3 separate regions of the Homo sapiens genome follow, and all the other regions are linked to region 2. Evidence: fine-mapped expression QTL. A gene starts in region 2. Each other region holds a variant in brackets. All regions are shown on one strand. Distances are from middle to middle. Region 1 has its middle 60 kb from the start of C1orf220. Region 2 holds the start of C1orf220 (chromosome 1 putative open reading frame 220). Region 3 overlaps LOC105371632 (a long non-coding RNA gene).

Region 1 (2,761 bases), 60 kb before region 2:
AATTCACTCATGAGGGAGGGCAGAGAGAGTCCCAGGGAGGAGGGAAAACTGTGGGTGGAGCTGAGTGCTAGAGGCAAGAACTCAAAGAGAAAGCGGGGACAGATGAGATTGATGGTGCCATACAACCCTCCTTTCAAAGCTGAGTATTTAACATTGTTGAAAAATCAGCATTCATCCCTTTTATTTTATAACTGGTAAAGACCTTTATAATCCTTCAGTGGCCGAGAGGACCTACTGGGCCAGTCTGCTCTGTGACTCTCCCTCATATCTAATGAAATGGGCAAGGCACTCCCAGAGGCAGGCCCTGGGCCCTTGGGTCAGGGATCTACCCCTGCTTTTGAACTTCTTTTGGCCTCCTTCAGTGCTCTGCCCCTTATAGCCGGGCTTCAGGGTATAGTCCATGTCCATGTGGTTGCTTATACCTCAAAGCTACTTCTGGATAGCCTGAGCCAATCTCGTGCTACTCAAGAAGTAAAGGAGAAGAATTTCCAACTATATACCTGGCTTTGTGAATAGTCTATGGGAGCTACTTATTGGGAGCCTCCACAGAAAAACCTGTTTCCCACTGTTACATATGCTCACTTTTCATCCATTCAGATGCAGAGGCTAAAATGTAAAACCTAATATAAATTCAAAAAGGAGGTACATAAGCATTTCTGTATCTATCACTTGCAATGCTCTTTTTACCTGGACAAATCAAGAGCGAACCTGTTCTTATTTGAGGTCACAGGAACGGCACGTCTTTTGTGACATTTCAGGCTCAGCTTACGGAGAGTTTCTTAGTGGTGAACCAGGATGTTTTGGTGATAACTTGCAAAAGGGATGAGTGAAGTAACTACAATGAAGACTGATGATCTAGATTCAGGATTCCATTCCCTTCTTGTTCCTATATGGTTGAACATTGGGAGACACTCCCAGGATCTCCATTTGTTTCTCCATAACTTTAAAAGCAACCAAAATTTTTAACTAGCTCTATGCACCATGCTAAATGCTTTATATAGATATATGTGTGGAATTTAGTCCTCAAAACAATTTTGTGAGATAGGTGTGGGTAACCCCATTTTACAGATGAGGACTCTTTGAGTCCCTGAGAGGTTAAGTAACTTGCCCGAAGTCTGAGTGCTGGTGAGTGGTGGATCTAAGATTCTAAACCAGCTCATCTGATGCCAGGTCCACATACTTTATGCATTTTACCTTCTGGGAAAGAACTAATGCCTCTTTTCGTAAGGTTTGAGAGAACAAATAAGAAAGTACATATAAAAAGCTTTGAGAGTTGGGAATCAAGGTATCTGTAAGCCTTAGATTCTTAAGTATGGTGAAAAGAAAATTGAAAGGGATCAGTTAAAATCTCACAAGATCAAAATGTATTGCTCAGGGATTCTCAAAATTAGGAATTGTAAGTAGAAACATGGATCTCAGCCTTTTTATCTATAGGTAAGAGGCTGAAAAGGCTCAGTTTTGCTGCAGATTCCAAATTGATGAATATGTGTGATGGCTTTCCAAGTGAGAAGAGCTCTCTGAGTCTTGAAAAAATGGTTTATGACCACAACTTATAGGAGGACTATTAGTGAAGGAAATATGGACTTCCAACTGTT[T/G]AAAACAGATTTTAAGAAAGAAACCATGACTGTTTTACAAAAGTCTTGTGTAATGGACAGAGATAGCCATGTTAGTTTCCATTTTCTGCAGAAAGGGGGCATCTCATTTAATTCAAATCAACCCAACAGTCCTCGGGGTTTGGAGACCTCTGTCATTCTCCAGATTTAGCCAGGCCAAAGTATAACATATACATGCCTTAGATGTCTTACAAAAGTCACGTCACTCCAGAGAAAATGTGAATACCTCACAGAAGCTCTGGGGACAGTCCACTGACTTCAATTATTTTGGAAAGAAAGTGAAAGCTCAGGAGTGGCCTTTGAGTTGTGACACCCCCCCTTGCATTGCAGGGACTGGCCTCAAATCAATCTAGGCTCTCTGGATAGGCTGGCTTCAGAGCATTTGGTTCTGAAGTGATCTAAACAAAGACATATTTTTTATGGCTATTCTAAAAAGATAGCTGTTGCTGGGCATGGTGGCTCATGCCTGTAATCCCAGCATTTTGGGAGGCTGAGGCGGGCAGATCACCTGAGGTCAGGAGTTCAAGACCAGCCTGGCCAACATGGTGAAACCCAGTCTCTACTAAAAATACAAAAATTAACCGGGTGTGGTGGTGGGTGCCTGTAATCCCAGCTACGCAGGAGGCTGAGGCAAGAGAATTGCTTGGACCCGGAAGGCAGAGGTTGCAGTGAGCTGAGATCGTGCCCCTGCACTTGAGCCTGGGCGACAAAGCAAGACTCCGTCTCAAAATAAATAGGTAGATAAACAGATAGCTAGCTAGCTATCTGGTCTACCCTGTCCTCTGATGTTAGATGCCACAGAAATAGAGAAAATGCAATGTCTTCTTTTCACAGTCTAACTCTGTTGGATAACATGATTTTCCTATTTGACTGTGTTTTTCATGTTGTTAACTCCATATGTAGAATATGTCAGAGCCATGAAGGTGTTTGGCTGAGAATCTTGGAGGCTGGGGTTGTAAACTGAATGTGTAGCCTCCTTCGATGGGAGGAGTATTCACAGAATCTGAGTGCTGAGTGTGGGAGATAATTTGAAGTAGGCAGCGTCTAAAATAGTTCCTGACAACCCAGTGCAATGACTCACACTTTGGGAGGCTGAGGCAGGAGTTTGACACCAGCCTCAGCAACATCATCAGACCCCGTCTAGACAA
Region 2 (2,761 bases):
GAGATATAAAGAATTAAAGAAATTGTGATTAACAGCCCTGTGTCTGGAGCTCATGAAGCTCAGAGGATTGGGAATGGAAGTGGCAGGTTTAGGCTTGAATCAGAACTTCTGGATTTAGGAAAACAAAACAGGCCAGGCGCGGTGGCTCACACCTGTAATCCCAGCACTCTGGGAGGCCAAGGCGGGCAGATCAGGAGCTTGAGACCAGCCTGCCCAACGTGAGAAACCCTGTCTCTACTAAGAATAAAAAATTTAGCCAGGCATGGTGGTGGCACGCCTGTTAATCCCCGCTACTTGGGAGATTGAGGCAGGAGAATCGCTTGAACCTGGGAAGCAGAGGTTGCAGTGAGTCGAGATGGCGCCACTGCACTCCAGCCTGGGCCACAGAGCGAGACTCCGTCTCAAACAAACAAACGACAACAACAAAATGCAAACTCTGGCCAGGCGCGGTGGCTCATGCCTGTAATCCCAGCACGTTGGGAGGCCAAGGTGGGCGTATCACTTGAGGTCAGGAGTTCAAGACCAGCCTGGCGAACATGGTGAAACCCCATCTCTACTAAAAATACAAAAATTAGCCAGGTGTGGTGTCATGCACCTGTAGTCCCAGCTACTCAGAAGGCTGAGGCAGGATAATCGCTTGAACCTGGAAGACAGGTTGCGGTGAGCACAGATCGCGCCACTGCACCCCAACCTGAGCGACAGAACAAGACTTCATAAAAAAAAAAAAAACCCCACGCAGATTGCAGATTCCTGGGCCCCATCTTCGCCTTTCTGAATTGCAGCCTTTCACCCTTTAAGAATGAGAGGGTGAAATCTGCACGTCATACAAATAGCCCAGGGGCTATTAATCTGATGTTGCTCCCCAGCTCCCTCCAACACCGTCAGAGGGTGCACGGATTAGGCCTCTGCTGCGTGCAGAGAAGCATCCTAGGTGCTGCGTGGCTGTGCCAAAGCAGCAGAAACCGGTGGTGTGCCTTAAGATGCATGCTCCAAAGCTGTCCACAAGGCCTCTGGTACAGGCTTCCAGGTCTACGTCTCGGCTTCCCCGACAGTGTCCATGCGACACTGTCACCAGTTTCTCCTCTCACAAGCAGAAAATCAAATTCGGATTGGGCAAATGATTCCCTGCCCGGGTGTGGAATAAGGGTCAAGTCCTAAGTATGGAGAGAGAGCGCCGGCTCCCGCCAGGATATGCGAAGCTCTGGAGGGGAGGCCAAGCCACCAGGCACCCGGCGGGAGAAGAGGAGGCTGGAGAGCGCCGCCCAGTGCCTGCAGGCCGGGCGCTCCACGCCTCCCCTCCCTCCTGCACACCCCATTCCCCTCCGGTTGCCCCGCCTGGGAAGCCCCCTCCCCACACCTCCCGGCCCAGCATCTGCACGAGAGCCGCGAGCCCTGGCCCAGAGCTCTGGGTGGGCCTCTCACCCCAGACGGCGGCCGCAGCCCGTCCCTGATCACCGGCCGCCTGAGCCCTCCGTTCGCTCGGCGCGAGCGCCGCCACCCGTCCTTACCCCCATCCAGTCCGAGGCCAGCCCCGTAGGCTCCGAGCCTGCTCCGTGAAAAGCCTTTTCCCCAGGAGGAGAGTTACTGTAAAGCAAGAGGAAGCCGAGAAGAGGCGGTGGCTGCAGCGCGCGGGGCCCGGCGGGGGCGCGGGGGCGTCGGGGTACTGACTGGGCAGCGCGGTTTCCCCTCATCCCGGGACACGGTGCGGCGCTAGCGCCACCCAGCGGGCGCGGTGGGAATTGCGCTCCCTTCCTGCGCTGGGGCTCTGGACACACAGGCGACCAAGAATGACGCCTGCAGCCGGATAAACGCTCGGGGCAAGGCCGCTATCATCCCTCTGCCGGGAGTGAGTCAAGTCTCAGCAAAAGAAGAAGCCACTTTGGCCAAAATTCCAAGAGTGCTGATGAAGACGGTGACATCTGACATTTCAATGGCACTTTCCATTTCCCCCGGGGTGCGCATTCCGGGCCAGTGGAGCGCTGCGTCGCCTGTGCAGGACCTGGAGGTCTGCAGGACTGTGACCAGTCGGAGTCTCGGAGTCGTGGGTTAAACATTAGTCGGGAGCACTCGTTCATTCCCTGAGCTCCCCTTGCCCTTCACCCTTCGGTCCCGGAAGCCGGAAGGGAGACTGCCCCGCCCCTTGCCTGCCGCCCAGTGGCTCTCCCGGGGCCCTCTTGGCCCCTCTCTCCCAGCCCTCCATACAGTGAAGGGTTGTTTCCGCTGGTGACTTCCACCTGTGGGAGCAGAGAAAGGAAGCGGGGCAGAGGAGAAGGGGAAGGTGTCAGGCGATTCCCCTCCTTGCGCTGCAAGCCGGGTGGGAATAGAACACCTGCAGCCCTCCCCGGCGCCCTGCGAATGAGGTGGGAGTGGGAACGCCATCAGGGCAGAGCCCCTCCAGCTGGCTGGGGTCTGCACCTCCTCGCCAGCCCGGCCACCTCAAAACGGTGCTTGCCTCCCTGCGGGGGTGTAGAAGCCTCTTGGAGCAGCACTTGTAGAAAATCAAGTCCCTGGAAAGAAGCAAAATTAATCCGTTTGTTTCTCTATTTATTTTTGCTTCCCCACACCAGGTATTCACTTCATCCAAGGCTGCCCAATGTCACCTTCCACCCAGAGGAATCTCCCCTCTCCACCCCAGGCCAACAGCCTCTGCCTTCAGCTGTGGCCTCCACTCTGGCATTACTCTGGGCAGAGGGCTCAGGAGGGCTCAAGGAGGACCAGTGACATTCAGAGTGGCCAGAGTAAAGGGAGGGAGGGGGAGTGG
Region 3 (2,761 bases), 28 kb before region 2:
TGCCTGATTTTAATCCTAGCACCACTACCTATTGCTTGGATGTCCTTGGGTAAATTACCGAACTTCTCTAAACCTCAGTTTCTTCACCTGTAAAATGAAGGCGGCAGAGATAGCTAGTTTCCCTCATTCCTTGGTTAAAAAAAAAACCCTTCATTTTTAGTTGTACACATGGTCTCCTAAATAAAGGCCACATTTTTCAACCTTTCTGAAAAACAGAAAGACAACACCAAGGCAGAGTTGCTGACTGCCTGGCTTAGTGTTGAAGGCACGCCCCGACACTCACACGAAGCCCTTGGCAAAGACTGGGAGACTTACTGGCTCCAGTTGTTTAAGAAAAATCTCTGTTCATCATCAGCTGACCATTAAACTAACTGAGCAGGGACTTCAGTGGCCTCACCTGACAAAGAAAACAGAGTTCAGAAGAGTCAATAAACAAACGAACTAAAACAACAGCACCATCAAAACAAACCTGGGGAGGGTGGAGAATCTGATTTCCAGAGTTGCCACATTATATTATTTAAAATGTCTAGTTTGGGCCAGGCGTGATGGCTCATGCCTGTAATCCTAGCACTTTGGGAGGCAGAGGCTCACTGCAGCCTCTGTGTTTTGGGTTCAAGCAATTCTTGTGCCTCAGCTTCTGAGCAGATGGGATTATAAGCGCCCGCCACCGTGCCCAGCTAATTTTTGTATGTTTAGTAGAGACAGGGTTTCACCATGTTGGCCAGGCTGGTCTCACTCCTGACCTCAGGTGATCCTCCTGCCTTGGCCTCCCAAAGTGCTGGGGATTACAGGCATGAGCCACTGTGCCTGGCCCAGTTATTTTAAATATATTCAAATATATATTTGAAAACCATGTCTAAAAAAACTGAAGGAAACCATCTCTAAAGAACTTGGCCAGGTGCAATGGCTCACGCCTGTAATCCCAGCACTTTCAGAGGCTGAGGCGGGTGGATTACTTGAGGTCAGGAGTTCAAGACCAGCCTGGCCAACATGGTGAAACCCCGTCTCTACTAAAAATACAAAAATTGGCCAATCACGGTGGCTCGCACCTGTAATCCCAGTACTTTGGGAGGCTGAGGTGGGTGGATCACAAGGTCAGGAGTTCGAGACCAGCCTGGCCAATATGGTGAAACCCCATCTCTACTAAAAACACAAAAATTAGCTGGGCATGGTGGCAGGTGCCTGTAGTCCCAGCTACTCGGGAGGCTGAGGCAGAAGAATTGCTTGAACCCGGAGGTGAAGTTTTCAGTGAGCCGAGATCACACCATTGCACTCCAGCCTGGGCAACAAAGTAAGACTCCGCCTCAAAAAAAAAAAAAATATATATATATATATGTGT[G/A]TATATATATAAAAAATATATACAATATGATATAATATATACACATATATACATATATTATATATTGGCTAATTATATTATTAACATACTATATAAATATAATATATAAATAATTATATTAATATAATTTATATATTATATATATAGCCAGGTGCAGTGGTACATGCCTGTAGTCCCAGCTACTTGAGAGGCTGAGGCAGGAGAATCGCTTGAACCCAGGAGGTGGAGGTTGCAGTGAGTTGAGACTGCACTCCAACCTGGGCAACAGAGTGAGACCCCATCTCAAAAAAAAAAAAAGAACTAAAGCAGAGTGTGAGAATTATGTCTCAGCTGGGTATGGTGGCTCACATCTGTAATACCAGCACTTTGGGAGCTGGAGGTGGGAGGATTGCCAGCTCAGGAGTTTGAGACCAGCCTGGGCAACATGGCAAGACTACATCTCTATTACAAAAGAAAAAAAATAAAAATAAAGAGAAATGTCGCACCAGATAGAAAATATTAATAAAGAGATATAATTTGGCCGGGCACAGTGGCTCATGCCTGTAATCCCAGCACTTTGGGAGGCCAAGGCAGGCGGATCACAAGGTCAAGAGTTCGAGACCAGCCTTACCAACATGGTGAGACCCCGTCTCTACTAAAAAAATACAAAAATTTCCAGGTATGGTAGCACGCACCTGTAATCCCAGCTACTCGGGAGATTGAGGCAGGAGAATGCTTGAACCCGGGAGTTGGAGGTTGCAGTGAGCCAAGATCACACCACTGCACTCCAGCCTGGGTGACAGAGCGAGACTCCATCTCAAAAAAAAAAAAAAAAGGAGAGAGATATAATTTATTTTTAAAAATCAAATAGAAATTCTGGCATTAACATGAAAAATTCACAAGAGGAACACCAGGAAAGGTGTGAGCAGGAAGAAGAGAGAATTGGGAAACTTGAAGATAGGCCAATTGTGGTTATCCAATCTCAGAAAGAAAAAGAATGAAGGAAAATGAACAGAGCCTCAAAGACTTGTGTGGGACACCATCAAGTGTTAATAGGCATAACTGAAGTACCAGAAAGAAGCAAGAAAAAGAAAGGGGGAAAAAAAGTACTTGAAGACATAAGGGCTCAATACTTAACAGATTTGATTAAAAACATGAATTTACACATCCACGAAGCTCAACAAACTCCAAGTGGAATAAATTCAAAATATCCACACCTAGACACTTCAAAATCAAACTGTCAAAAGCCATAGACAAAGAATCTTAAAAACAGCAAAAAAAAGTAACTCATCATATACATAGGATCCTCAAGATTAACACTGAAACACTCCAATTAAAAGACAGATATTGGCAGAATGGATTTTAAAAATCATAGAACTATATGTTCTTTGTAAGGGACAAAATGTAGATTCAAAGACAGAAACAGTCTGAAAGCAAAAGAAG

The links. PIP is the estimated chance that this variant, and not a neighbour inherited with it, causes the effect.
Region 1: its variant is fine-mapped to the expression of C1orf220 in whole blood (TOPMed, PIP above 0.99). The same link has a PIP of 0.9 or more in blood mononuclear cells.
Region 3: its variant is fine-mapped to the expression of C1orf220 in whole blood (INTERVAL, PIP 0.98).

Annotation. Positions count from the first base shown.
Region 1 is chr1:178,601,404-178,604,164 of GRCh38, reverse strand. No RefSeq gene overlaps it. Among named protein-coding and RNA genes, the nearest start is that of C1orf220, 60 kb to the right of the region's middle. The variant T/G (reference allele first, on the strand shown) is at 1,596.
Region 2 is chr1:178,541,633-178,544,393 of GRCh38, reverse strand. It overlaps C1orf220 (chromosome 1 putative open reading frame 220), which reads right to left and starts at 1,598. Exons shown (of 3, transcript NR_033186.1): 1 at 1,509-1,598. It overlaps LOC124904460 (a long non-coding RNA gene), which reads left to right and starts at 1,749. Exons shown (of 2, transcript XR_007066748.1): 1 at 1,749-2,360; 2 at 2,568-2,761. RefSeq lists silencers at 1,364-1,433, 1,464-1,793 and an enhancer at 1,844-1,903.
Region 3 is chr1:178,569,572-178,572,332 of GRCh38, reverse strand. All of the region lies in intron 1 of LOC105371632 (a long non-coding RNA gene), which reads left to right. Among named protein-coding and RNA genes, the nearest start is that of C1orf220, 28 kb to the right of the region's middle. The variant G/A (reference allele first, on the strand shown) is at 1,340.